Regions from separate parts of the Homo sapiens genome. Here regions 2 and 3 are each linked to region 1. Evidence: fine-mapped expression QTL. A gene starts in region 1. Each other region holds a variant in brackets. All regions are shown on one strand. Distances are between the middles of the regions.

Evidence for each region. PIP is the estimated chance that this variant, and not a neighbour inherited with it, causes the effect.
Region 2: its variant is fine-mapped to the expression of SCML4 in whole blood (TOPMed, PIP above 0.99).
Region 3: its variant is fine-mapped to the expression of SCML4 in whole blood (INTERVAL, PIP 0.97).

Annotation. Positions count from the first base shown.
Region 1 is chr6:107,818,113-107,828,406 of GRCh38, forward strand. SCML4 (Scm polycomb group protein like 4) reads right to left here and starts at 6,201. Exons shown (of 8, transcript NM_198081.5): 1 at 6,014-6,201. RefSeq lists an enhancer at 4,284-4,353.
Region 2 is chr6:107,726,032-107,736,325 of GRCh38, forward strand. All of the region lies in intron 5 of SCML4 (Scm polycomb group protein like 4), which reads right to left. Among named protein-coding and RNA genes, the nearest start is that of SCML4, 93 kb to the right of the region's middle. The variant G/A (reference allele first, on the strand shown) is at 6,129.
Region 3 is chr6:107,711,412-107,721,705 of GRCh38, forward strand. It overlaps SCML4 (Scm polycomb group protein like 4), which reads right to left. Exons shown (of 8, transcript NM_198081.5): 6 at 9,292-9,582. Among named protein-coding and RNA genes, the nearest start is that of SCML4, 110 kb to the right of the region's middle. RefSeq lists silencers at 1,989-2,098, 5,365-5,514. The variant A/G (reference allele first, on the strand shown) is at 5,778.

The DNA of each region.
Region 1 (10,294 bases):
TACCCAAATTTAAAGCTATCTACAGCTTTCCACTTGAAGTTTTTTTGCAAATGAGGTCTTAAAAGTGATATAGTCGAATATGCTCGGGCACCTTTGGCATCTGAAAGGGAAAATTCCCAATAAAAGGGGCAGTGCGCAGATGGCTGCTGGGTTGACTCCTAAGTCTCAAGGCAAACTCCCCCAGCACAGGCCACAGTGGCAACAGCATGAACCAAATCTTGCTTGAATCCAACAAATGACCACAGATTCCTCACGACTGAAAAAATAACAGAAATCTATTCCCCCAGTGGAATTCATTACTGATCAATAAACCCAATGCATTGTGCAACATTTGTGATTATTCTCTTTGGAATCAACAGCATGTCTTAATAGCTAATTGTTTGATAAAGCCTTGACATCACCAAAATTTCCCAATAATGAGGGCACTAAATCCTAAAGAACTGTGAAGGAAAGAGGTCAGCCTCTTCTTTGGAAGGCCACAAAGAATGAGAATGATTCTTACAGTCCTATAATCACTCAGAAATGGTTAGGCCCAAAGGAATTAAGTTACATGACCTCCAAATCCTGTCTCCAAAACCAAAAGCATGAATGCCCTGGAATAGGCTTTCGCCTTGTGTTTTTCTCTTCGGTTCTTCCTTTCCTCATTCACCAAGGCAGACTGCTTGTCAAAACAGGATTAAAATCCTGAGGCCAGCCCCTGGCCGACTTGAAGTCTGCATCTAAGGCAGGGCCTTAGACATGGCAGCTCCAAGTGTTTCATGGGCCTGGTGAGAGGGGCAGGCCCTGGCTCTAGACACCAGGGAAAAACATACTCCTTAGTGTTCAACCCTGGTTTTCTCATCAGAGCAATGATGTCCCAGGATGACCTGTGGACAAAAGAGGACGGGAGAAGAGAAAATATTTTCTTCAGTTCAAAAGAAAAGGCCCCTATGGTCTATGAGCTGACAGCTGTATGGTACTCATAGCTATTACTGAATCCTTTCTGAACTGCACCGGGGGTACAAGAGGGAGAGTGAAGGTCTAGTGCTCGGTTGGAAGGGAGAAGGAACAGGCTCCCTTCTCTTTGTTTTATCCTACTGCCTCTTTGCTCCATACCACTTTCCCCTGGCTGGATTTAGACCCAGCCAAGTTGAGTATTCATCTTTATGGGAGCCTGCACATGTCTTTAGGATTACTTTCAGGCCATATGTTTCTGTTTTGAAACAATGAGGGCTTCTCTATAATGATCAGCACAGGGAGAGGAAAAGGGCAAGGGCTTTGGTTACCAAATATTCAGCTCCCCAAAGTTGAGTCACCATCGCGGGGCTAAGCAGACAACATCACCACCTTTCAAAGCACAGTGTTGACACTATTTTTTCCTGGCATACTAATTTTCTCATAACAGCCTGCTCCACTCCTCTGCTTCTGTCTTGCATGTTTTCTGGAGAAAGTAAGACCTCCTCAGCCCAGCCAATTTCTCAAAAGGCTAAGACAGCCTGGCTGCAGGAATGTGCAATCATTCTTGAAAATCAGCAATGGTGGGTTGCATTTATCTGATCAAAAAATGCAACTGCCAAAAAAAAAAAAAAAAAAAGCACATCTGCCTCCCCACAAATGAAAATTTAGGTAGCATGTGTCTAAGTTAGTGGCAGAGTAAGAGGAGTTTATATGGTTTCTTATCACTGGACTAAAACACAACTAGTAAAACTGGTATAGTAATAGTCACCCCGGGAAATATGCAATGTGGATATCAAAATCTACTCCCATTACTTCAGAGTGTCAAATGGACTGAGTGGAATGACTTTTCAGCTTAATGCAAAGTGAGAACTGCCACTGGGTAATAAATTCCTTTCTGTCCTAAAATAGTAGCCCAAGAAATAATCATCCCAAGAAGTAAGAGGTGTTTTATCTCCTCCGCGGCAGCAAAGGGCTTCTCCTGATTGCTAAGTGCTGATTTATTCCAGAATGCACAATTGCAGCTTGCTGCTGGTCTCCACCCCATCCGCCTGAAGGCAGGGATGTTCTTGTCTGTGTCAGAACTGCCTGCTTAACCCAGCAGGAAGCCTTGTCACCGGTATTCAGCCCTGGCCACGTCTCTTGGCTGAGAGAAGCAGGAGCCCAGCAATGCTAACATTTGAAAGATCCAGAGGGAAGAGAGGAGGCTGACTTTTGAAGGGATGATCTGCATCCATCACCACTTGCCCTCCAGATGCTATACCCAAATAGCAGTGTCCCTCCTGAGGCTGTCCCTGAATGCCACCCACCAGTGACCAGCCGCACTGGGAGGGGTGTGTGTTTGTGTGTGCGTGTGCGTATGCATGTCTGAGAAGGGCTGTTGTGGGGCAGGCTGCTCTGCAATGCTGAATGCTCCTGTCTGTGCCTCTTCAGACATTAATATATGCAGATCAGAGGAAGCTAAATTCCAAGCCTCTGTAAGCATGTCCAAAATGGCCCTCTTGCCCAAAGCACTTCTTCAAGTCTCAAACTAAAGATCAGCATTTGACAAACCACGGGTGAGAGTTTGCAAAAACATGAAGGAGTGAGCCCTTGCCAGAATTGAAACCAAGACGAGTGCAACAATGAAAAACGCTTAGAACCCACGGGCTGGCAGCCAGGGCGTTCGGACTTGGTATGGGCGTATCAACAAATGCAGGGTTCCCCACAGCGATTTACAGCAGAGACTCTAGTAGAGATTTACAGCAGACTGGAGCACTGCGCTCTTGCAAATGCAGAAGTTTGGGGTGGGGAAAGGTAGAAAAGAAAAAAAAGAAGAAGAAGGAGAAAGTGACATATTCAAATGCGATTCAAACATTCCAAGCTGCTCTTTTGACCTCAGAAATTTTACCACGATTTGGGTGATCCTAATGGTCTGTGGACCACGTTGGAAAATGTCACAATAGATGTTTGAATTAAAATCCAGTAGGTTTGCCAAAAGACCAATTGTTAAAAATTGGCAGCATTCCAGAGAACTTACTAGGCTGTGTACTGCCCCGGGGCTGAGAGAACTGCTAATTCCAGAGAAAGTTAATTATCACCTTATTGATAAAAGGGTAATTTTTAAAGCTTGTGGTGTGGCTTTTGTGACTCATTAATTAAAATTTAGAGTAATTTACTAGATACCCTGGTGGCTTCTGTTATATGATATCTGTACCAAGCCGTTTAATGTCTCTCCCAGGGGCTGATTTAATCCCCCTCTTCTCTCCTCACCTGTCTGCTTTTGAAGGCAATGAAAACATTAAAAAATGTGTAAATCTAAAACTAGCCTTTTGAGAGATGGCAGAATTAAGAAATAAGATGTCTAGGGAGGCATTGTTTAAAAGTTCCTTCTTAGAAACATCAGATGTGCCCACCAAAAGAAAGAAGCTTGTGTGATCACACCAAAGGCAACTGCTTTCACAAACTTCATCCACAAAATGTTAGACAAGATTTTACGCTCCATGATAATCAGATTAAAAGAGGGTCTTTTCTCATCTCCTTTCCCTTCTTTCCCATTCCATCCCCACATAAAATCTGAGGGCTCAGGGGAAGAATGACACTGGAGATGCTTGGTATCCTAAGGCTCCCAGCCCAATGAGGGGTAGTGTCACCTGCCACGCTCTTCAGGACTTGTGGAGTGGGATGGGCACATCCCGGCTCCCTGGCATCTACCCATGTGATATTGAGGTTTCCGAGGGCAGGGACTTGGGGAGGAAAATTGTCCTGCAGATCCCTAACAGGGCCCCTGTGAGGGCTTTCAAGCTCCAGCCACCACCTCTGCCTGGACCAAAAGTTCTTTAAGGTGCGTGTCATAAAGGATGTGTGGACACATGTGTGATGTGTCCTCAGGCCACACAAAATTGTAAACAGACCTACGAAGCACTCTAACATTTAAGCCCCCAGACTCCCAGAAAGGTTATTCCTCTCCGAGCATTCCTTGTTATGATTTCAGGGAACTTCAGTTATGTTTCCTTAAAAGTATTGAAGTATTTGAGATCCAAAATTGAGATTAAAAATACATAAACAGCAGAGATGATTTTCTCATCATTTCAAATTTTAAAAATTAAAAAAGTCTATCTTTGTACTTTGGGGTAGTGCTTGAATTTTTTAATAGGAAAGTGTTACTGAGTATTTTTTTAAAGTCAATATTGTTTTGAACTCTCATTATAAAAGTTCTTGCAGCAAGTGACAGTATTTGGGTCTGGCTTGTTTTCTGTGGGCTGAGCTGCTTAGCTTACCTGCTGCTTGCTAGAGGAGACAGCCTTTCACCCTCACCCCCAGGAGTCAAGAACCAGAAAGTGAAACTGCTTCTGCTGATTTCCCTCGCCTCGAAAACACACCACCAAAAGCAAAGAAATGATGAAAAGCAACTTACTCGTTTCGCTTATTGTTTTCTTGTCTTTCTATTACCGTTCATTTACTCTTTTCTTTTTTTCTTTTCTTTTTTTTTTTTTGCAGCAAAATAAAAGTAATTTTGGGGACACAGGGAAGAAATGTAAACATGTTATACATGAAAGAACTGGATTTTTGTGGGCTTTGCACTTTTGTTATAATTCCACAAATGAAGCAAACTGATGAATTTACCAAAATATTTCAGAGCTCATCTACGTACACAATTTAAAGAGCTAAAGAAAACACATTCATATTTTTTAAAAATTCTGTCAAAAAGCCTGTTTAAAAGTTATAGTTTGTGAAGCCACCAATTTCCCTAAAACTGAAGATTCTACATTAACCTTTTGAGTTTAGACGATCACGCAGTACCGATTTTCTAGGTAATCTTCACCCAGCTGCTGTTGCTCAAACAGCCCCTCATTTTATCAGACTAGTTCTACCAAGCAACACAAAAAATGCTCCACACAAATATTATACCCCCCAGATAGTTTAACACACTAAGAATTCCTTTGTAGTTATTTTTATGCTTTCACTCCAGATATTCTATTTTGCTTTAAAAAAAAAAAAGTGGAGAAAAAAAGCAGCTATATCCCTCATTCTTCAAAAATGGTTCCTCTGGTTGAAAAGAAAGAAAAACAGCATATAACAAATACCCTGATTCTGAAGTGCCTGGATTACTTTCTCAAGTACTGTAGTGTCTGAGATCAGTAAAAAACCACTTTCTCAGAAAGCCACTGATTGTCTAACCCTCATGAGTACCGTCATGGAATCTAGAGACAACACGAGGAGACACCTCTCGTTCACGATCACAGATAGTGGAAAGAACTTTGACTCAAGCACCTCAACTCAGCAAAACAGCTCAGCAGCCTGCACCCTGGCCTCATCCACCGCTCCTGTCCAGCCAGCAATCAACCTGGAGAGGACCCCTCATGCTTTGGGAGGAGCACGTGGAAGCTGGTTCAAGTCACAGTGCTCCACCTGGGAAGGAGGTGATTTTGAGCTTGGGAAAACTGCCGCTAATACTCCATAGTCACCAGTTTTTTTCCCAAAAAACGAATTAAAACCAGAAACTAGCAGTAAATATTATTCTTATTTATGCCTCATAAATTAGGAAAAACCAGCACAAAGACATGTGAAATATTCTACCTGGGATATTTGAAATAAAATTAAATGGGAAAAAAAACACTTTTACATGTTCATAACATACCAATTTTAATAACCAAATTTTAGGTAAATATTTTTATCCCAAGACATAGTACAATTTTTTTAAAATTAAAAAGCAAAACAAAGCAAAATTATCGTGAAGGGAAAAAATAACTAACCGGTTACTTGAGTTCACATTTGGAAAAAAATAACTTTCTAGGTATTTAAATGCAGAGTTAAAGAGTAATGAACATGTATATAGCCCAAATTTATAAACTATATAATTCAATGTTACATTTTCCCCTCTGAGATCTGGTTAATAAATTAAATGCTGTACTTTGCATATGAGGAACTAAAGTTTACCTACTGGACTCAGTGGTTTTAGTGCAGGACACTCTTGTGCGTTGCCATAGAGGTAGGCATGCAACCCAGAAAAAACTGAAACAGGTAACCTGTCATGCTGACAGTTACAAGAGAAAGATCCCGTGTCAACGGCACGCCTCCAATTGTGCATCTCCCTTACCTACAGCTTGTTCACCAGAGCCCTGAGCAGGTTGTTTACCAGGTCGGGAGTGTTGACTCAGAAGACAGATGACTTTCAGCACATGCAAACCGAGTATTGCAAAAGCTATCTTCCACCCGTGTTAGTAGCTCACAGTTAGTCTCCAGCAGCCCTGCGCTCCAGCTGCAAACATCTCATTAGACTAATGCATTCAGCACAGGCAGAAAACTCGATTTACCATAGCTACAGCAATGAATTTCCATTACGATGACAGCTTCAACCACATCATGTCCGGAAAACCAGCCAACCACTGGCTTTTAAAGAACACACACATTTTACATGCAGAAAACGAGGCCTCTGTGTGTGTGTGTGTGTGTGTGTGTGTGTGTGTGTGTGTGTGTGTGTGTGTGTGTTTTGTGTTTCCTTCCTCTTAGCAGCCTAAGAGAAATGTGCAGTGTAGCTTTTTGTCGACATGAGCTGCAAGGTAATGACACTTCTGCTTCTTTGGTAGTTACATCCTTGTAATAACCTGAATTATGTCACAATGGTTAGAATGGGTGTTTCCAACATTTCAGTTTTCATTACCCCTCCTCTGTTGCCATAGAAACCAGACTGTAACATCGTCTCTTTGTCCCAATCCTGCAGCAGTGTGGGCCAACACCAGGCTTATAAGACACTGGTGATCTGACAGAGTGAATGTTTGACTTTGGACAAATAAAACAAAAAGAAATATTACAATAGCATCATTGTTCAGGAGACCCTGTGTGATTCCCAGAGCAGTGTGCCTATCCAGGTGTGTGCACACACCATGGTTGTACATATTAAATCAGCGGCTGCCCACAACATATGTGTACAGTTCATTAAAGCCGGCCCTGACTTTGGCTCCAGGCCTGTATGTGTGTGTGTGTAAGCATCTCTACCCACCTCAACGTGGTGGGACCTGCACAGGATAGAAACAGGGCAAGAGTGACTATTCATTCCCATGCCCCATTGCATTTTCTGCAGCAAATCAATATATATCGGCGAAGGGATCTTTTCTTTTCCTTTCTTTTTGTAAAGTGGAGCAGGGCTCCCCATTGCCCATTTCATCCACTCTGGGATATTGGCATATTCACAGGTATTTCCTACAAGATGAAACATCCATTCTACAAACATGTGGCTTACTCCTAGGGATGAGCAGCAAACAAATTTAGCCGGGACTAAATATCAACCAGGGCTAACGAAGGCTTAGGCCACAACCTGGCCAGTTACTGAGAGTGAAAAAAACTGCAATGGACAACTTGAGGTTTCTCTAAATATATGTGTAGAGTCACATTAGAAGTACATAAGAAATCTCTCCTCTGAAATTTATTATGAAAATATAAAAAATTGTTTTAAGTCAAAGCCTTGTAATTAATTGAGCAAGAAGAAATTCACTACTTTAGTTCATTTAATCATCAAATTTTGTTGTTTTGTATGGGAAAAGGCAGGTTTGGTAGTTTGCATTTTCATTTCATATAAGTTGATTTCACTAAAGAAGGAGGAAGAGGAGAAGAAAAGAAAATAAGATGGATGGGCCAGGTGCAGTGGCTCATGCCTGTAATCCCAGCACTTTGGGAGGCCAAGGCGGGTGGATCACGAGGTCAGGAGATCGAGACCATCCTGTGAATGGTGAAACCCCGTCTCTACTAAAAATACAAAAAATTAGCTGGGCGTGGTGGCGGGCGCCTGTAGTCCCAGCTACTTGGGAGGCTGAGGAGGGAGAATGGCGTGAACCCGGGAGGCGGAGCTCACAGTGAGCCGATACCGTGCCACTGCACTCCAGCCTGGGTGACAGAGCGAGACTCCATCTCAAAAAAAAAAAAAAAAAAAAGAAAATAAGATGGATGGGCTAGGTGTGGTGGCTCATGCCTGTAATCCCAGCATTTTGGGACTCCTGGACTTGAGGTTAGGAGTTCGAGACCAGACTGGCCAACATGGTGAAACCCCATCTCTACTAAAAATACAAAAATTAGCCAGGCTTGGTGGCGCTTGCCTGTAATCCCAGCTACTCGGGAGGCTGAGGCAGGAGAATCGCTTGAACCTGGGAGGGAGAGGTTGCAGTGAGCTGAGATCACGCCATTGCACTCCAGCTTGGGTGACAAGAGTGAAATTCCATCTCAAAAAAAAAGAAAAAAGAAAGAAAAAGAAAAGAAGAAAAGAAAAGAAAAGAAAGAAAAGAAAAAGAAGAAAAGAAAAGGAAAGAAAAGGAAAGAAGATGGATGATTTAAGTTTGGACAGCATCTCTGTCCCAGCGACAGCGGTTATTATACTCACACCCGTGGCCTCACACATGCCACACTACACTGAGCTTAAAGCACCTGGAATGGGCTGAGACATTAGACCAATTTTCACTCTAAAATGTTTCTTAGGATTAAAAAAAATAACATTTCTTAAGTAATCAGAAATAATCTCCAAGTCCTGTAAAAGAAGTAAAAGGGTTGGCAGAATCTACCCATAAGAAAGGAGTTGCTGGTTTTCCTACCCAGCTCTGTGAGGGTTTCTCACTCTGATCCTCAGGCCCAACCTCCTTGCCTCCTCCCAGATGGGCTACTGTTGTCCTTGTCCTCAAGGTGGGTGCATGTGGGAAGCACCCATTGTCATCTAACAGGTCAACTTGGTAATAAAGCCTAAAATTGAAATCAACAAAAGCTGGATTGCTTGGGCGCGGTGGCTCACGCCTGTAATCCCAGCACTTTGGGAGGCTGAGGTGGGCAGATCACAAGGTCAGGAGATCGAGACCATCCTGGCTAACACGGTGAAACCCCGTCTCTACTAAAAATACAAAAAATTAGCTGGGAGTGGTGGCAGGCGCCTGTAGTCCCAGCTACTTGGGAGGCTGAGGCAGGAGAATGGTGTGAACCCGGGAGGCGGAGCTTGCAGTGAGCCGAGATCACGCCACTGCACTACAGCCTGGGCGACAGAGCGAGACTCCGTCTCAAAAAATATATATATTTTTTATATATATGTATATATTTAAGTAAACAATATTTATTTACTTAAATATGTTATTCAAAATATTTGATATTTAATAAATTATTCATTAAATTATGTAATTTAATAAATTTAATAAATATGTAAATATATTTATTTAAATATATCTTTATATTTTTATTTAAATATATTTACATTTTTATTTAAATATATATTTACATTTTTATTTAAATATATATTTGTTTTTTACTTAAATGTATATTTTTATTTAAATATATCTTTATATTTTTTACTTAAATTTTTTTATTTAAATATATCTGTATATACACACATTTATTAAAATATATATATTTAAACTTACTGGGATTTCTTTCTTCATGCAACCAGGAACATAGCTTTTAATAACTTAAATCAATATTTTAAAAAATCCTAAATGTTTTTAATTCCAAGAAAAATTTAAGTTAAACATGTAAGAAAAAAGAAATTTGATGGGATGACTGGTATTAGCTGAGGGACCTGCTAAGAAGAAAAGTGACCGCTCTGAGCTAGCATCTCTCTAAGTCTTGTACATCCCTGTCCCATGAAAAGGGTGCTTAGGTTGTGCCACGTTGTTAATTTTCTTTGCACTGTGGTTACATTTCTGTCTCAGACCACAAGCAGCATGTTCCACTCTCTCCACACGAGTGCTACTGGGCTGGTGGTTAGCAGGAGGCAACCAGAGGGAGCAAGTTAATTTGGGGGCGTCCCAAATGCAAATCTACTTAGAGTAGCCTCCATTTGAAGAGTAATCCTTCTGTCAGCTGCTGGTAAAGACACCGTTCACATTGAAAATGGCCTTTGTCCTAAAGAGTTGTGTTTTCCAACACAAGCATCCGATCGAGAGGATTCTGTCTTGGACTGGCAGTCAGTGCTACCGCCGAAACAACCTTTGTTATAACAGTGATAGCTAACATTTACTGAAGAATTATGTGTGAAGCCCTTCCCATTTTGTATCCCATTTATGACAATCCTATGAAGTAGGTATTATGATACCATTCCCATCTTACAGATAAGGAAACTGAGACTTAGGGATGTTAAATAACTTGCCCAAGGACACACAGCTTAGAAGTGGTAGACACAGGTCTGACCCAGGCAGTCTGTGCCCAAAGATACTCTAATTAATCATTCCACCTCATGGATCCTGGCACTGCCACTTGTTCCAGCCCTACCACTAACCCAATGACATGGGTGAAATCATTGACTTTCTATAACACGGGACAAGGAAATAAGGGACTAGATCATCTTTGTGGTCACTTATGGCTCTGACATTTCACAAGCCTAAGAACTGCTTTATCTCTAACTCAAAACATC
Region 2 (10,294 bases), 92 kb before region 1:
GCGCCACTGCACTCCAGCCTGAGCAACGGAGCAAGACCCAGTCTCAAAAAAAAAAAAAAAAAAGACACCATCAAGAAAGTGAAAGGACAACTCACAAATTGGGGGAAAATACCTGCAAATTATATATTTGATCAGGGACTTGTATATCTTGTAAAAGGGGCTAGACTTATACAACCAACCTGTGTAAGGGACTAGACTGTATTAAGAGTTATTCTAGCTGGGCTGGGCGCGGTGGCTCACGCCTGTAATCCCAGCACCTTGGGAGGCTGAGGCGGGTGGATCATGAGGTCAGGAGATCAAGACCATCCTGGCTAACACGGTGAAACCCCATCTCTACTAAAAATACAAAAAATTAGCCGGGCATGGTGGCAGGTGCCTGTAGTCCCAGCTACTCGGGAGGCTGAGGCAGGAGAATGGCGTGAACCCGGGAGGTGGAGCTTGCAGTGAGCTGAGATCGTGCCACTGCACTCCAGCCCGGGCAACAGACCGAGACTCCATCTCAAAAAAAAAAAAAAAAAAAAAAAGAATTATTCTAGCTCAATAAAAAGACAACCCGATTTTAAAATGGATAAAGGACTTGAATAAACATTTCTTTAAAAAGATATACAAATGGCCAGTAGGCACATCAAAGCTGATCCACATCATGAGTCGAATCAAATCAAAACCACAATGAGTCACCACTTCACACCCACTAGGAAGGTGATAATCAAAGAGTCAGATAACAAGTGTTGGTGATACCATAGAGAAATTAGAACCCCCACACCCTGCTGGTAGGAATAGAAAATGGTGCAGCCACTTTGGGAAACAGCCTGGTACTTCCTCAAATGCTTAAAGTAGAATTACCATAAGAACCAGCAATTATACTCCTAGGTATGTACTAAAAAGAAATGAAAACAAATGTCTACATAAAAATCTGTACATGAATGTTTACAGCAGCCCTATTCATAATAGCTAAAAAGTGGAAGAAACTCAAGTGGCTATCAACGAATGAATAAAATTTAAGAATCTGTTATATCCATACAACAAAATATTATTTGTCCATAAAAAGGAATGAAGTACTGATATCTGTTACAGTGTGAATGATCCTTGAAACATTATGCAAAGTAAAAGAATCCAGCCACAAGAGACCACATGTCAAATGATTCTTTTTATATAAAATGTCCAGGAAAGGCAAATCTATACAGACAAAAAGTAGATTCGTGGTTGCTTAGGGATTGGGGTTGGGGTGTGGGGTGGGTAATAGCTAAAGGGTATGTGGGAGGTTTCTTTGAGGTGATGAAAGTATTCTACAATTGACTGTGCTGATAGCTGCGCATATCTATATACTAAAAGTCACTGAATGGTACCTTAAATGGTGAATTGTATGATATATGAATTATATCTCAATAAAGTTTTTTTTTAAAAGGCGTTTGCAGAAGTTCAGTGCTTTTCAGATGAGGCTATGAACATATTCTCAAGAATTACGTGCAGTCAAGTGTAACAAACACGGCGTTGGCCACCAGGACACACATAACCTAAGCAGCCAAAGGGTCTGCATGCTCTGTGCCGAATGCTATGCAGCCAATGAAGTGCTGCGAGATGTCTTCAGGACCCTGGAACGCTACATCTTTGCCTTGATGGCCTCGCTGCATCTCTTCCCTCTGGGTCAGAAGCCTTCGGAAGGGAGATTCTAAAAAGGACCTGGCTATGGAGCTATATACTAGGCTGCTTTCTGAATGGAGTGAGGGAAAGGAAAACTCACGTGTATTGAACATCTACTATCTACTATCTACGATCTAAAGCCAGTAAGCAGTAAGGCTGCCATTACATTCCTTTTGTTGGAAAGTTCTCATAGTCTGGGATACCAATCCTTTTTGTGTCCCACATGTCAGGTGCTTTGGTATATGTGAGGAAGCTACATGCAGTATCTGGCATGATGCCTGGAATAGAGGAAGTGCTTGATAAATATTTATTGAGTAAACATTTGAGCCAATGTTAGCTGTAAGGCTGCCGTTACACAGAAGACTCATTAAAATTGATATTATAAAGAGCTTATATATAAATTCTTTAGGTAGATTTGTGATAAACAATGAAAAAAGATTTAACAAAAACAGTACACTGCTTATTGAACACTTTAAGTCTAAATTAAATATGCCTACATAGTTCTGATAGTCTAAGGTAGAGAATGCAGATAATTCACTGACTGGCACTATAGTTGGAAAATACAGACGCAGATGGCAGATCATTCCCTTATCGCAAAGTGTGGGAATGGGGAACAAGGGAACATGCACTGAATGGATTTCAAAACTGTTGACAGCGGCCAGGCACCGTGGCTCATGCCTGTAATCCCAGCACTTTGGGAGGCGAAGGTGGGCGGATCACCTGAGGTTGGGAGTTCAAGACCAGCCTGGCCAACATGGTGAAACCCGTCTCTACTAAAAATACAAAATTAGCCAAGCGTGGAGGCAGTCGCCTGTAATCCCAGCTACTCAGGAGGCTGAGGCAGGAGAATTGCTTGAACCCAGGAGGTGGAGGTTGCAGTGAGCTGAGGTTGCATCACTGCACTTCAGCCTGGGCAACAAGAGCAAAACTCTGTCTCAAAAATAAATAAATAATTATAAAGAAAGAAACTACTGATGCCCGTGGGTGAGATCAAAGGTAATAAAAGCTAACCTCTGGGCTGTGATCCAAATGAATTATCAGAAGGGAAAATAGGCTTCGGAGGGCATCAAGCAATACCTTCTACCCAGGCAAAGGATGTGCTGGTGGTTCCAAAGTCTGCCCAGGTGGACAACTGTCAAGACAAATCAACCAAGCCCCAGATGTGGCTCTGTAAAGTGGCTCCTGGGTGGCCGCGAGTGAACAGCACGTTCAGATGCACACACTGTGGTGGCTTCCAGAATTGATGAAATGGATCTGTTCAAACCCGATTGAAACTGCATTTTCCGCACTTTTCTATAGAGGGGTTCTGATACATCATAGCTAAGCGTAAAAGTGACAGATGCATGGATGGCCCTCATCATTCGGTGGCAGGAAGGAAAAGGACCTTCACAAGCACCCAGCCCAGCATTTCCCCAAATGTTAAATGCTTTCCACTGGCGGGACAGGGAACCACATGGGTATATTCATTTCCTAGGATTGCAGAAACTAACAAACCGGGTGGTTTAAAACGACAGAAATTTATTCTGCCATAGTTCTGGAGCCTACCAGTCTGAAATCAAGGTGTCCACAGGGCCAGGCTCCCTCTCAGGACTCTAGGGGAGAATCCCTCCTGGCCTCTTTCTAGCATCCCCTGGTGGCCAACAATCTTTGGAGTTCCTTGGCTGGAGACAGCGCTCCAATCTCTGCCTCCACTGTGGTGTTTTCTCTGTGTGTCACGATCTGTGTCCAAATTTCCTTCTTCTTCTAAGGACACCAGTCATGGGATTAGAGCCCTAATTCAGTATGACTTCCCTTTCACTTGATTACATCTGCAAAGATCCTATTTCCAAATAAGATCCCATTTCCAAAAAGGGTTCCAGATACCCGAGAATTTGAACATACACGATTCAGCCTACGACAACCAGTAAATGTTTTTTTATTGTCATGTATTTCAATGTACATCCACGACATATAATTAGCACATCAAACAAAATGATTTCACTGATACAGTATGATTGCTTAAGCTGACTAATGGCTAAGATTAAAAGACATGAGTTAATGTAAAGGAATATCTTGAGTAGACAGTTCTATAAGTGTTACTCAGACACAGTAGAAATTGTGAAGGTGGTAAATTAATATTTGGAATGCATTGAGCTAGCCCCAACCTATCTCTTCAGGCAGGGTGTTGTCTAGAAAAGAAACTATGGTAGATAACTGAGTCTTTTATTTGAAAGCTTCCCCAAAGAGATTTTACAATCTCCTTTAGAGTGAGGCCATTGTGCTATGAATCTCATTGCCTAAAAGTTCCTCCTTACATCTAGCCTCAATTCTTCTTGCTTCAGTTAAAACACATGACTGCTGGACATGTACCCTTTACACTATCCAACATGTTAGGTCACCTCAACATCCAACATGAGGCAGATGAATTCTAGGTATGCAGAACTACTAGGAGCTTAAGAATTTAATTGAACTGTGACATATGTTTCTTACCTAAATCCAATATTTAAAGTCAGTAAAAAGAAAGGACCAAGTCTGTATCTGGAGAGGGAACCCCCACTTTTCAAGCGCTTTTGTGGCTGACTGGTGAGCAAACACCAGATGGGGCCAGCCGACCTGTTGGAGGATCTAACTCCTGCACACAGAGTCCCGGCAGACCGTAGGGCTCACAGGCGAAGGCACTCATGGTCGAAATTTCCTCCTGTGTCCATACAAAATCGTTTTCCATCTGAAAGAAGCTGTCTTGTCACCCTGGCACTGCTCATCAACAAGAGGCTCCAACCCAGCCTGTGTGAGGCCATTTAATTGCAGTGGAGAATGCCAGCTTAACAAAGCAAGGTAAATGAGTGGCTTTTTACTCACTTCTGTAACCCTCTGCATCCAGCCAAGAGACTAATGTTGCCATTTAAGAATCATTAAATCTTTTCCTCCAGAAAAAAAGAATGATCTGCCTTTTGCACAGTCACGAGAGCATGCTTAAATAGAAAGGAAAACACACACGTGGCCCCATCAAAGAAATCTGCCACATTTTCAAGGTTTGGCGTCCTGGGAGCTTTCAGGACAGACTGATGGTCCTTTTTCACCATCGCTAAACCTGCTTGTGGACTATGGTTCCCTCCAGCCACTGTGTATAAAGCCTGCCTATTAGTGAGGCCAAAGAACACTCTAGAAGCATGTAAACCCACTCAAGCCTCAAGGCATACCTGTTTGCATATGAACCTGAACTGTGCCTAAGCCTTCCGGTTTAGGGATCAAAGCTTCAGGGTTCTGAGTCCAGAGTGTGTGGATTCCTCCCTTGCTCCCTGATCCTTGCTGAAGCCTGGGGTGGAGATAGGGTTAGGTAATGCCCCTGCATCCATGGCTTCCAGGACACCCAGGTGCAGCCCATTTCTGCTACAGTCCTGGAGGGTCAGGTGTGAGCCCCTGAAATGTAGAGAACCTCCAAAGAGAGAAGCAGAAAGAGGAAGAGGTGCAGGAGAAAGCCACGAGCCAGAGAGAGAAAGAGAAAGTCCCAAAACAGAGCGGCAGGGAGGGGAAAACGGACCTTATGTATAAAACTATAGATGCTCCTGACCAAGTGTCAGCTCTCCTCACTTAGGACACAAGGCTTAACTGCTTACAGCCCAGTGGGCTCGGACTATTGATTTTATTTTTAAAAACTAAACTGGCATTTTACCTGGATTCACTAACCAAATGAAGTCCTGAAACACAACAATTCCACTATGCAAAATTATTCTCACATAATACCTATTAAGGCAATAAGAACCACAACATCTAGTCTTAGACACTATTTGTCATCTCTAAACAGTTCTGCCTGTTTGTCTTTCTCTCTCTCTCTCACCCCCCACTTCCCGCATCAGTCTTCCCAGTTGAGGGAGCAGCTGCAGAGTGAGCCCTTTCCACAATCAGCACGACCACCTTCCTCCAGACTGGGAGCCCTGGCCTTGCTCAGGATTGATTGCCTGACCCCTTTGCCGGTCTGCCCAGCCCTGCCGACCCCCACACCCTGCCCAGGCAATGGTCAGTGTCCTGTGGCCTCCGTGTGTGAACAGTTTGGTTCGGCTTGCTGACAGAGATGGCAACATCAGAGATTCCTAGCCCTGAAACCCAGATTAGAAAAGGCAGGAGTGCAGTTCGCAGATTTGTAGAGCTGTGGAGCAGCTACCCCTCTTTGCTTAGCCAGGTGCCATCACCTAGATAGTACAGGAAAAGGAGACCTGCGAGGAGAGGGGCAGGAGGGAGAAGGCGCAGGAAGCAGTAGCAGGTGCTCGTGCCAGCTGCACCTCTTTTACTCAGAGCCCAGACACAGGTGCTTCGGTGCCTACCTTGGTGGTTGTGTCTCTGCCACCCGGCAGCCTCTCCCACTGTCCTCTGGGGGACCGCCGGTTTCCAGCACGTGCTTGGTGCTGTGGGATGCAGAGGGGCCTTCTGCTGTGAATCTCTAACGGACTTCCTGGTGACCAAAACCTGAAGGTTTCCTCCCCTGCATGCAGCCTTTCACTGAGGCTCCT[G/A]TGGAGGTTTGCAGATTTTCTTTTCTCAAACTCAGTCCCGCCCCTTGTTCTTGCAGATAAGGGAGTTTTCCCTTAGGGCCCTCTGTGGCCTCCTGGCCCAGCCTTTCTGGTTCAAAGGGCACAGGGCCATACTACCTATGAGGCTGAGCATTTCATTTGCTTCAATTAAATTTTCCATTAACTTGGTCTCTGGCCAGTATGGATTTTCTCTCTAAGGTTGTCTCTGCAGTTCAGATCACTCAGCCCTGAGAATCAACCTTATGACTCCCCTCTGGTCCATTTAAGTACATTTCTATTTTTTCTCCCCTAATGAGATGCACAGCAACCGACCATAATTTTAATGCCTGACACCTGAACTTCTTACATCCTCTCAGATGTTTCTGGTTTGCCTAAGACTTTGTTCTAAGCCTAGGGGTTGATTTCCTCCTTTGGAAATTTTGACCAAAGGCATTTTTGACCAAAGTCATCTGTTTGGGATAATGAATGGCCTTTCTGTGCTCTCGGGAGGAGAGCAGGTTCCATACCACCCTCCATATGATCTCGCAGCTTTGCCAAACCTCCACGCCAAGCTTATGAGAATTCCCGAGAGCTGGGGGAGGCGAAGTGGGTGGGACATCCTGTGGTCACGCTGTTTCCTCCACAGCCCCCACAATTTTTTGGTCTTTCATAGAACCTTGGGGAAATTAAAAGTGGTCCTTAATCAGGAAAATGCTGAAGTTCCTGGAATAGAGGACGCCTTGTAAGTTTCCTTTCTAAATGGACATCTCGACTTTGAGAGAGGTTCACAGCACTCCTAGCATTGCTCACTCTGGTGGAGCAAGTTGCTGTGCTGTGAGATGCTCTGCAAAGGGACCCATCTGGCAACAAACCAACAGCTCATTGGAAACTCAGTCCTGCTGACAACCATGTGAAAAAGCTGGAAAAGTGGGTCCTGCCCTAGTTGAGGTTTGAGATGCAGCCTTGTGAGAGATTCAGAACCAGAAGGCCTGTGGCTGCACCTGGTCCCCTGACCCACAGAAGCTGTGAGACCCTAAATGTTATTTTAAGCCCCTAAGTGTTGGGGGTAATTTATGACACAGCAAAAGATAACTATTGTGGACAGAAGAAAGGAAGCCGTTTCATTCCTCTTGATTCTGCATGTCCAGATTGGAAGTTGTCATTATTAACTCAGCAGTAGCTAGGATAGATCTGGTACAGAGTATCTGCCCACTTCTCTGCCAGGGAGTTTATGTTTGTTTGTTGTAGTTTTTTTCAGCAAAGGGTTTGTTGCTTATGAATGAAACACAGAAAGCACCACTATTAGGAGAGAGTTCATGAAGTTCATCTTAGAAGCCTACTGGTTTCCTAAGCTGCTTCAGCTCCTCTTGGCATGGTTTGCCATTCTAACCCTAGTTCTCAAGCATGGACAACAGATAATGGTGTGAGTAGCCTGCAGATAGCAGTACCTTAGGGTCCGCCACAGGGGCTCAGGGTTGTGGTCCAGGGGAATAACCAGAAGGGGTCTCTAATACAACCTGTGCAGGTCCTGGAGGCCTCGAATGGCTGCATCTCACATACCCTGTCCCTTTGTTTCCACCAGTCCTTGTGCTTCCACTGTTCTGAGGTATAATCAGAGAACTTGGTTTCCAACCCCTTGGATCTACTTAGATGCCTGGCCCATCTCCCGGACCTACTCTTCTGTCAGAGGCAGGAGCCTCTTTGGACAGGCTCATCAGAAACAGAACATCTTCTGCAGTGGACACAGACACAACTATTTGATAGAGAGGCTGGGAGACCCCCGGCCATCTGGCCAGCTCTAATGGCTCACGGAGAATCGAGGAGTGGGGGCGCCACATGAGGGACTGTTCGCCTCATGGAACACAGGAGATTTCCAGTAGATTTTGTTATTTGAGGAGTGGGCATAGGGTAGAGGTAGGGGTGTCTTTCAGAGGATTCCTGGGGTCAGCCTTCTAGGAAGAAGGAGTCCATTTGGCCTCTTTTTTTCAGGCTTTTTATCTCCTCCACACCCCCAAACAGTAGAAAGCCTGCAAGGGGTTTACCACCAGCATCATTCTACTCCTCAAGTCTCAGGTGCTGGCATCTTTAATCCACAAAATAAATTGTGATTTAGACAAGAAGAGTGTTCACTTCTTTTGTTTGTTTGTTTGAATACAGTTACTTTCTACCAAAATTTTATCAAAGGGGTCAACGTGACTCAATATTACTCTAGTTCATATTGAAGATACCTTGGGCGATTAAAACAACTTAATTGGAACATTCATTCATTGGTTAATAGTTATGGAGTAAATAACTTCCTCGGTATCTACAGGACATGAGAGAGAACCTGAGCCTTACAATGCAAAGGGATCCAATCAACTGCTGGACATAATAGAGAATCCATTTTAAATTCTACGAAATGCAGGCTTTTCTCTGGAGGCACCTTCTTTAAAAAAGAGATTACATTTTTCCCTTTTAGTTCAATATTTTAAAATATGTACAGATATCATAATTTAATGAAAGATATCACTGAAAATATAAAGCTTTTCCTAAATGAATTTACATAGGCACATGGGGAGAATTAGGATGAGGACTCCTACCCTGGAGAACACTCCCTATTCCATGGTGTAAGGGTTCTAGCTTGGCCTCTATGGCCCTAAGTGTCAGGAAAAATATGAAGGCTTTTGTATTTTCTACAAAACTGATGGACACTTTTTAGTTTCTTTTTGTTGTTGTTGTTGTTATTGTTGTGGTTTTTGAGAAGGAATCATGCTCTGTCACCTAGGCTGGAATGCAGTGGCACAATCTCAGCTCACAGCAACCTCCACCTCCTGGGTTCAAGAAATTCTCCTCCCTCAGCCTCCCGAGTAACTGTGATTACAGGCATCCACCACCACACCTGGCTAAGTTTTGTATTTTTAGTAGAGACACGGTTTCACCATGTTGGCCAGGCTGGTTTCAAACTCCTGGCCTCAAGCAGTCCACCCACCTCGGCCTCCCAAAGTGCTGGGATTACAGGCGTGAGCCACCGAGCTCAGCCTCTTTTTCAACCTTTTCATCAAAACCTTCTGCAAGGATTCTTAAGACCAGAGCTTGTCAATAGTTTATTCTCCTTCCAAATGACCTCCTTTCCAATGCTCAGCTTGAGAATGAGACAGCTCATTTGTCCATGTGGCCCTTGGCTGTGACAAACACAGCTCCACAATGTTCCAGTCATGTGGCCTGCACTGGGACACAAGCAGGTGCAAAGGCATCTGCAGGAACGCACCTCTCTTCATTCCTTTCCTTTCTTTCTGTTTTTGAGGGCGGGGGGATTCCAGTTCTGTTTTTTTTTCTTCAAGTTTTTTTTATTGTGGTAAAACACATATCACATAAAGTCATGGCCCGACACAGTGGCTCACTCCTGTAATCCCAGCACTTTGGGAGGCTGAGGCAGGTGAATTACTTGAGCTGAGGAGTTCGAGACCACCCTGACCAACATGGCAAAACTCCATCTCTATTAAAAATACAAAAATTAGCCAGGCATGGTGGCAGGCTCCTGTAATCCCAGCTACTTGGGAGGCTAAGGCAGGAGAATCACTTGAACCCTGGAGGTGGAGGTTGCTGTGAGCCGAGATCACGCCACTGCACTCCAGCCTAGATGATGGAGCAAGACCTTGTCTCAAAAAAAAAAAAAAAAATTATCATCTTTACCATTTCTAAGCATACAGCTCAGTGATATTAAATACATTCAAAATGTTGCATAACCATCATCAGCATCTATCTCCATAACTCGTCTTGTAAAACTGAAACTCTATACCCATTAATCAAGAACTCCCCCTTTATTTCTTTTCTTTTTCTACCCATCATTCCACATATTAATTCAAACACTAGATCAAACTCTGCCACTGTCTGGTGGAGTAGGCTACTTGTGTGGGTTTTGTAGAAATGAGGAAGTTCCCTGGCAGCTGGAATGATGGGCTGTGCCTGCCCCGTGGTTGTCATCCAGCCCCGATGTAGCCAGAACACAAGGACACGGGGAAAACATCCCGTGTGGGAAAGGCAGGAAACCCAGGAGGAGAAGAGAATTGATCTTCCTAGAGTGTAGTTTCCTCCTTGATTTTGCTAAATGAGGGCTGGGGTTTGTTCTGTTCTTTCACATCTTTGCTAGAAGCAACACAGGTGTACCACAAGCCCCTTGTGGACATCTA
Region 3 (10,294 bases), 110 kb before region 1:
TCCAGTATTCAGTACAGTAACATGCTGTACAGGTTTGTAGCCTAAAAGCAATAGGCTGTACCACACCGCCTAGGTGTGTAGTAGACTATACCATCTAGGTTTGTGCAAGTACAACCTATGATTTTCACACAACATTGAAATGACCTAAGGATGCATTTCCCAGAATGTATCCCATTGAGTGATGCATGACTGTGTTTATAAATAGGACTTGATAAATGTGAGATGAATCAATATACTCTGCAGACACAGTCTCGGTAACTTATACAAAAGCCTGTGTGTGTAATCTTTACTTCTATTTTAAGGCTAGAAAAAAGACAAGGCTCTGAACAATGAAGCGGCTTTCCTACAGAAGAATTCTAGTTAGAAGTTGAGAAGCCTTCACTTTATTTCCCTTCTTTAGATCTCGGGGCACAGTGGCTTTCTGCTGTCTCTGTCTCCTTCCTCCTTTTAATGTGCCTGAGACGTGCATGCTGCTCCATTAGCACTGAGGAGAATACAGCATCACATTTCTGCGTCTGTCCTAAACACATAATGGTTTGGCTGAGAATTGGATTGACTTTGAGATCTTCCCTGCCTCTTCCTTGTGGGACCTGGAAGGGTCCCATAAGGTGGTTTGGCACGGGGCATTTTTCTGGGAATCTGTTAATGCACCCTGGAGCCATCTGAATGCCGATCCACACTTATTAAAGATGATTTCACTCCATTTAAAGACATCTGCACTCAACATGGGGACGAGGAATCACGGAAATCACATTGCCTTTGGATCCTGCCCCATCAGAACATTGGCGTTAATCAGGGTGAAAATAGATGCTCTGATTACAAAGGCTGGAAGTCTTTAGTGCCAAGAATAATTTTAGAGTGATCAGAGCAGAGGTCAAATCTAATTTCCTGCATTTGACAGGAAGGGGGGAAAACCCAGACCAATTAACAGCATCATTCACAGGAACCTAGAGTCCTTTGAGCTAGGTCAGGGAAACACTTTCCCTTCAACTACAGTGTTGAAGGGCTGAGCCAGGTGGCTGGTTTGTCTTTAAGGAGGAGGCTCTCAGGACGATTGCTGTGGAGGGAAAGAGATAACTGAGATGGCAAAGTGGGCTCTGTTCCTGGTACCTAGGGCTTGCTGTGGGCACTTTTCACTTTTCCAGGATGGAGCAGAGGCAGCAGGGGCCTGGCTCGGGCGTGTTTCTTAGGGGGCCTTTTAGTCATACAAGACAGAGGGCAGCAGGCAGCCTAAGTCACACCTCGGGAGCTGCTCCTGATCCAAAGCACATAGATTCGCTTTAGAAAGGAAGAAAAATGGAGCTTTCCAGTGGCAGGTTTGCAGAGCCTCACAGTGGTCTGTGCTCACAAAAATAATAAATACACTAGCCACTCCCTCTCCAGCTGCAGCGAAGGTGTCAGGAAGACAGATGGGTGGAGCCTGGTGCAGCTGCAGCAGGCAGATGTGATAGATCAACAGTAAGACATGATGGATGTGGAAAAGTCTTGCTCCTAAGCAGACAGAGCATGCCAAGAAGCACTGGCCAGACACCTTTGTGAGCAGGCAGAGTTCTCCAATGAGGACATCGTGCTTGGTCTTGTCATTCCCTGCCAGAGGCATGTGAAAAGTGAAACCTAGTTATGAATGGATTAAATATGCTTGTTTCTAAAGCTGAACTCACATTTACCAGAGCTAGGATGACTATGAGTCAGTGTTTCAAAGCAATCCTGATTCTCACAGCACAGGTACTTGCACACTCTCTGTGAATCTCCCTCTGCCTTACACATGCCCATGAGCACATCCATACGTACATAATTTCCTTTCACTCATTCATAATTCAGGAGAAACTCTTTAGCTAACAACAGAGTCATGTGGAGGAGCGGAATTAGCAGTGAGCTGGGAGTCAGAAACCCCTGCCACCCACCAGCCATGTGATCGACTCTCTGCTTCTCTGTTGTAAAATAAAAGGGCTTGATCTCTAAGCCCCTGCCAGCCCCTTATGACACTGTGTAACCCCTCCCACCTCAGGCTGTTCCCACTAAGGGAGTCACTTCCTCCCACAGCTGAAGGCTGCATCAGTGTGTCCACATGCAAAACACACCGAGTGCAGCCACAGCCAGGCTTCCCGTCCCTCCTGGGCTCTGATCATTCTCTACGGACCTCATTGTCTTCATCTATAAATTGTGAATATTATTTGCTGCTTCTTAAGAATATTTTAAGAATCAAGAGAATGTGTCTCAGGGCTGGAGCCTGACCATAAGAATCTTAAAGACAGGAAGGTCATTGTCTCCGACAGGGACCCCTGTGTCCTCAGGCTGCCTGTGAGCTGCCCAGGCCCTCTTGGTTTCTGGCACCTGGAACTGGGTTGGGAGGACCGGGGCTGGCAAGGGGAAGGGGAGGGAGATCTGTTCTCAGCATCTCCAAGTGACCTGCTCCCACTAGATGCATCCTTTCTAGATACAATGCCATATCAAATGTGTGACATGCCCAGATTAGCCCACGATTATGGCAAAATCACATGGCTTGAAACAGTGCTGTTTTTCATTATTTCTATCTGTTGCCCAGGCTGGAGTGCAGTGGGGTGATCTCGGCTCACTGCAACCTCCGCCTCCCAGGTTCAAGTGATTCTCCTGCCTCAGCCTCCCGAGTAGCTGGGATTATAGGCAAGCATCACTCACTCTATCCAGAGTTTTCAAGATGCCATGTGGTGAGAGAGATGAGAGGGAAGAGAGCCCACTCAATCCTTAGAGTTTAATCAGATTTTTCTTTTCAATTATTTGAGACCAGCTGGCCTGCCTGTGTGAGGAGAGAGCATGTCTCTAGAAACAAGGAGAGACCATGGGCTTGAAGTCAAGCTGAGCTGAGCGAGATTCCTTCTTGGCCACCAGAAGACACTGTGACCTCCTAGCAAGCACTGTTACCTCTGCTGGGAAGCCTCCAGCCATCCCTCCTCCCTACTGACCCTCCCTGGTTGTCTTTCCTCCTGCTTATTCCAGCCAGCTCCACTGCCCCTTCTCTGGGAAGCCTTTCCAGACTCCGAAGGGTAGGCTCAGCCACTCCCTCCCCATCTGATTCTCCCACAGCATCCACACTTCTCCCTGACAGCAATCATCACAATTGTAATGAAATTAGTGTAATAATTTGTTGACATTTGTCTCCCTGGAGTTGCAAACCCTCAGAGAACAGGGCCGGTGTCCATCTTGTTCACAGCTCTGTCCTCAGATGTGAGAAGAGCCCCTGGCACACTGTGCCCAGGAAGTCTCTGCTGGCTAGGACCAACCAAAACCTGAGTCTTAACTGCCTGCTCTATAAAACACCTCGTTGAGCTGTTGCAAGGATTAAATGGCATAATGTTGTAAAGCATTAAACAGGATTACTCATTAGGTAGTTGCTGTTCTTCTTATTATGATGATGTCATTCCATAAATGGCCAGTAGATTTGTTTTCCTAAATCCCAGGGCCACCAGCTCACTCCCCTGTTCAGAAATGTCTGGTTTACAGTTACTACAGAGCAAAGCCCCATCTGCTTGAAATGGATCCCAAACCTCCCAGCATGGTTTCCCTGGTGTCCCTGCACAAACCCTTTATTTTTTTTTTTTTTTGAGATGAAGTCCCGCTTTGTCATCCAGGCTGCAGTGCAGTGGCATGATCTCGGCTCAGTGCAACCTCCACCTCCCAGGTTCAAGCGATTCTCGAGCCTCAGCCTCCCGAGTAGCTGGGATTACAGGCATGTGCCGCCACACCCAGCTAATTTTTGTATTTTTAGTAGGGACGGGGTTTCACCATATTGACTGGGCTGGTCTTGAACTCCTGACCTCAGATGATCCGCCCACCTCTGCCTCTCAAAGTGCTGGGATTACAGGTGTGAGCCACTGCGTCTGGCCCCTACACAAACTCTTTAATTAATCAGCTCTTGCCATGCTTTTGTCCGCTTCACCTCCTCACATACAATGCTGTTCTCATTCTTCTTTTTCTAGCTAAATTGTCTCCATCCCTCACCCAATGCCAGGCCCTATCAAATAAAAATCCAACCACAGGAGGCATTTGGGTTGTAATAGCAATATCAGATTGACTTCGTTTCTTGATTCTGAATCTTGGACCTAGTTGTGGTTGGGAATTCTACAGTGTGTCTTGTTAAATGCCCAAGTCAGGAAGCTTTTGTTATCCAAAACCTCTTTATAGCTCTTGGTGATTATATCTTGGATGAGAGACAAGGAAGAGCTCTCAAACTTTCACCAGAGCATCAGCAGACACCAGGAAAATGTGCCCTGTGAACACATCCCCTTGGAGCCCACTGGCAGCGGAGACAGACGTGATATATCACAACTGCAGGAAGCTAAAGGTAAGTACCGCCAGAGAGAGAAGGCTGAGGAGTTTGTCAAGTCATCAATACCCACCCTTCTGCCTGCAGCCTCATGCAGTTTTCTGGCTTTTGTGGTTTTAAACCATTTTGATTAGTACCATGGGGAAAATGCCATTTCTAAGTCTCTTCCATGGTTTATGACTTGGGTCAAACTCCCTTAAAGAGGTATGGTTTTTTTGATGATAACTGCTTTTTACTTGGGATGGAACTTCAGAGCAATATTGAACAGTCATTTGGGTGGGAGGGTGGGGTGTGGGGGGACCCACAGCAGGCACTAGGCTGACAGCTAGGTGAGAAATGGGTGAGGACGCTGGCGGTTTCTCTCCCACTTTAACATCCTGCCACTCAAGTCAGCATGGTTTTTATCTCCATGGTTTCCAAACATTTTTAGTTGTGCAAATTTTGTTTAAGCAAAGCACATATAGAACCCCACTCTGCAAATGTGAAAAGGCCCTGCTTAAAGAGAGGGAGGGCACCTGGAGTCCTGTCTGCTCTTGTTCCATCTTCTCCATCTCTTAGAACCTTGAAAGCCATCAGGCATGATTTGAAAACCCCTGGGGTTGTTTTGAAAGACAGGCTTTGGAGCCCACTGAAGTCAGATCCTGGCTTAACACTTGATTTACCTTCTCTTGAACCTCTTTTTCTTTATCTTTAAATCAAATATACCAATACCTTTTTATAAATATTAAATCCTAAACATATAACTTATAATAAGTCGGAAACTGTCTGGCCCCCTTGAGTGTAGGTGTTCAATAAATAACAGTCTGATACAGGCCTCAAGCCCCCCTTTGCCAGGGCTGTGGGGGGTTCAAATATGAATAAGAGGCTTCACAAAGCTGAGGGTCTGTTCCTTTCTCTAGGATAGAGTAAGAACTATAGATGAGGAAACAAAGTGCCATGGGAGGAAAAAGGAGGGAGTGAGCATTTCTGATCAGACTTCCCATTGCCTACTCAGCGTTACTTTGCACTTCTTCCTCTGTAATAGCAGCCCTAACTTCCATCTGGAATCATGGTTGCTAGGAATGAAAACCACATTTCCCAGCATCCCTTGCAGCAAGTGGCCATGTGACTACATTTTGGTCAATGAAATGTAAGCAGAAACGGAAACCTCTTTCAGAGACACTGGTGCTATCCTTCCTTCCGTCTTCTCCCCACCCACTTCCTCTGTCTCACTGCTGAGAATGTGCATGGCTGACTGGCTGTTTCTGGTACCTGCGGTTTTATTTAGCACCCTGAGGAAGGCACTGGTTAAAAGGAATCTTTCGGCTGGGCGGGGTGGCTCACGCCTGTGGTCCCAGCACTTTGGGAGGCCGAGGCAGGCAGATCACGAGGTCAGGAGATCGAGACCATCCTGGCTAACACTGTGAAACCCCGTCTCTACTAAAAATACAAAAAAAAAAAAAAAAAAAAAAAAAAAAAAGCCAGGTGTGGTGGC[A/G]GGCACCTGTAGTCCCAGCTACTCAGGAGGCTGAGGCAGGAGAATGGCATGAACCCAAGAGGCAGAGCTTGCAGCCTGGGTGACAGAGCGAGACTCTGTCTCAAAAAAAAAAAAAAAAAGGAATCTTCGGAGAATTAAAGTGTTAACAGACCTACAAAGGATGAATAATTTCATTTTTCTTCAGTGTATCACAAAGGCTCAACAGTGAACTTCAACTGATACATCACATAGCAGCTTTTCTCCAAAGAGGTTAGGTGGCTTTGCGATTTTAAACATCCCACAGTCCCGTGGTGGGGGTCCTGCTGATTATGGACAACTGGATTTCAGGGTCTCAGGCAAAGTTCTCTCTAATATTTATTTTTATTTATTTATTTTTTGAGACAGAGTCTAGCTTTGTTGCCCAGGCTGGAGTGCAGTGGCGCAATCTCTGCTCACTGCAACCTCCACCTCCCGGGTTCAAGCGATTCTCTTGCCTCAGCCTCTCAAGTAGCTGGTATTACAGGCGTGCATCACGACACCCAGCTAATCTTTGTATTTTTAGTAGAGACGGGGTTTCACCATGTTGGTCAGGCTGGTCTCAAACTCCTGACCTCAAGTGATCCACCCGCCTTGGCCTCCCAAAGTGGTGGGATTGCAGGCATGAACCATCGTGCCTGGCTGGTTCTAATACTTCTAAGTTATTAAAAAGACAGCCAGGATTCAGGGTTCAGGTATTGATGTTCTTGGGATGAAAGGCAGCAGGCACAGGTGGACTCCGTGTCTCTGATCTCATCCCAGATCCTGACAGGCAGAAGGGCCTGAGCTAGGGGGCCTCTCCTGGGGTGCAACCAGGCTCCAGCAGAGAGGCTTTCTCAGAGCTGGAGGCTGAGGAAGGGTCTGGGCTGCCCCTCGGCCAGTCGTCTGGCAAGATTACTCAGACTGTCAGGGCCTGATTCCAGGATGATATGAGTTAGCTCTGTGTCCCCACCCAAATCTCACCTTGAATTGTAATAATCCCCATGTGTCAAGGATGGAGCCAGTTGGAGATAATTGAATCATGGGTTTGGTTCCCCCATTCTGTTCCTGTGGTAGCCAGTAAGTCTCACGACATCTGATGGTCTTATAAAGGGGAGTTCCCTTGCACAAGCCCTCTTACCTGTCACCATGTAAGACGTGCCTTTGCTTTCCCTTTGCCTTCTGCCATGATTGTGAGGCCTCCCCAGCCATGTGGAACTGTGAGTCCATTAAGCGTCTTTCCTTTACAAATTACCCAGTTTCGGGTATGTCTTTATTAGCAGAACAGACTCATACACAGGAGAACAAAGGGCCGGTATGGGGATGAAAGTGAAGGACAGGAGGACATCCTAGGGCTCAACTGGAAGGAGGTGTGAGGGGCTGGGGGACAGGAGCTATGCTGAAGCCCTCTGAAGAGCCCTGGATTCCCTGGCCCTGGGTCACCAGTTGGACTGAACAGGGCAGACTGTTGTTGAGTGAGTGATAGAAGTTCTCTCCAACCAAATCATGCCTCCCTCTTACTGCTGGAAATCCTGCATTTAAGACATAGGGCTGAGATTGCACCAACGTGAGTGGGAGAGAGAGTAAATATCTCCTTTTTAAAAAGTGGGACTCTGGGATTATGAGTCAATTCAATCAGCATGGTGTCCTGTGATCACCACCCTGAGAAAAGGGGAATGGGGCTGAGGAGAAGAGGATGAGAGAAAGACATTTAAACTCAAGAGGGACATAAGGATGAGTGTTTTGACAAGAAGACAAAGGGACACCGTGAGGGCACAGACATGATGCATGTTTATTGAACACCTACCACATGCCAGATATTAAGCTAACACTGGGGACAAACCTATGAAATCAAGGCTGCCCCTGGTTTACTTTACAGTGTTGGTTCGTGAAAGATCTTGTCCCTTTCTCTTGTTCTTAGGAATCAAATGGAACAATGTTGCTCTCCTTTGGAAAATAGGGCTCTGCTCACTTAATCTGCCTGGCTCATGGCCCTGTGTGACAGTGTTGGAAAGTGGCCTGCAGGGCATCTCTACATTTGGTAAGAGCTGCTGTGGAGGGAGAATCTGCGCTCTACCCCTCAGAACGCCTCTCCGGCAAGGGGCCCCTTCTCACCTCTCCATCCTTGGCCAGGGGAAGCTGGTCAGGGCCACGCTCATCTGGGTTGGATGAGGCTCTTGGAAGAGAATGTGTGGAGGGTCTTGAATCATACAAAATAGCTCACGTGTGCGGCTTGCTGGGGTCACTGGTGGAAGGATCCTAGGCTCAGGGGAGAAATGTGACTTGCCACAGAAGACAGAGCCTGCCCACTGAGGGGCTACAGGGTGGCAAGATGAAGACTCCCAGACTCCTTGGCCTGGGGCCTTCTTTCTTCAGCAGTTCTCAGCTGTGGAGCTGATGGGCTGTGATCTGTTAAGGGATGTGTTAAAAAGATCTATGCTGTAACTACTAACATTTATTGAGCTCTTGTTACCTCCTAGGTCTTGTACTAAATGCATGTATGAACTCATTTAATCCTCCCAACAATCCTATGAGGCAGGTGCTGCCATTATTATTATCACAATTTTATAGGTGAGGAAACTGAAGCACAGGTAAGTTAAGACTTGCAAAAGGTAGGCAGGAAGCAGCAGATCCAGCATCTCAGCCCAGGCTGTCTGGCTCTAGTCCCAGTGATTATCCACTATACTCTATGGCCTTTAGGCACTATCAAAATACTGAAGCTTGAAAATGATTTTTTAAAACATCAATCAGAAGGGCCTTCAAGCTATTACTATAATCCTTTAGCCCTTATAGCGCTTTTGTAGACTGCATTCCAACAAGCTTTCTTTAGTGGATGAGACAGAAGTGGCATTACAACCAGCATTGGGGGAATTTTGCCTAACTCTGCCTCTGCTCATGTATTTGTATCCTGAAGGTGACACTTCCTATGCAAGAGACAATTCTTTACCAAGGTCTGGTTCTCCTTTCTCCTGGGCAGAGCTAACCTACAGCTTCCAGAGTCCCTTATGGTTAAGTGTGGCAAAATGACCAGCTTTTGCCAATGAGATGTGAGTGGAAGTGATGAGCATCACTTTCAGATTGCAGGGAAGCACCTGTGTCTTCTCCACACCTTCTTTCCCTTTCTATTCCCTAATGCATGGGGCATGAAGGCTGTAGAGGGTGGCAGAGCCACAAAATAGATGGAGCCTATGTCCCTATATTGAGATGCATCCATGAATCAGGAACATTCACCTTTGGCTCTCGAACAAAAATTTCTATGGTATTTGAGCCTGTGTACATTTTGGAGTCTACGTATCCTGTGGCCTAGCCTGCCCTAATACACGATTTTCTTTGCTTATCAAAGGTTGAGTTTGGCTGTTTTTGAGAACCTCAAGATCCATGAAAGGACTTGTGGAAATTTCTGATCTCCCAGCAGTCCCACGTTTAAACAGCCACACTCCCCCTTCCCCAGATGCTGTGCTCCCCGCGCAAGGGCAAGGGATGTTAAGTCAGTGGGAAGCTGATGCATGCATTACATTACCACATCTGTTTCCTTCAAGAGAGGTCGTGTTTCTCTTGGGGCTGGAGGCTGGAGGCCTCAGCCCAGGTGCCGAGGGGCCACCAGAAGACATGGGGCTAGTGCGGGGACCACCAGCGGTGGCAGCAGGACCACCCCCAAGGTGGCTGTCTCCAGAGTTCTGCCTCTTGCAGTACAGCGAGGAGGAGGGGTGCAAGGAGCCCCTGTGGTTAAAGGTGGAGGCGGAGGTGTCCACGCTGTAGCGGTTCATGCCCACAGGGTTCACCAGGTACTCTTCGGTGGTGACTGTCTTGACTAAGCAATAAGGCAGTACAGAGAAGCAGATATCAGAGAGCAGTTCAGGAAGCTATCAGACCCTCCGTCTTGGCAAACCCTGCCCTGCCAACACAGTAGCCAGTATTTGTGAGCATGCAGAGAGGAGAAATGAACCTCACAACATAATTCCAAATAGCATACCTGTCAGCAGGCTGAGAGCTGCTTTGCCCACAGGAGCATATTGTAATAGGAATTAGGAGGTGTGCTCCTCGGTGCTTAGAGGAAAATTGATATTTTGGCCATTGATGACTTAATAAGCCCAAATCAGGCCAGGTGCAGTGGCTCCCGTCTGTAATCCCTGAACTTTGGGAGGCCAAGGCAGGTGGATCACCTGAGGTCTGGAGTTCAAGACCAGCCTGGCCAACATGATGAAACTCCATCTCTACTAAAAATACAAAAAATTAGCCGGATGTGGTGGCAGGCACCTGTAATCCCAGCTACTCAGGAGGCTGAGGCAGGAGAATCGCTTGAACCCGGGAGGCAGAGGTTGCAGAGCAAAACTCCATCTCAAAAAAAGAAAAAAAAAAAGAGTAAGATCAAAGACTTTCTTCTGCAGTGGCTCTGCCCTCACAGTCTCTGCTGGCTTCTCAGAATCTCCCTGTACTCCCTGCTCTTGCTCACCCACCAGCACAGCCCCCCTCACCTGGCTCAGGACTCCTGGGAGAGATCAAGCAAGAGTCACAATGTCCCA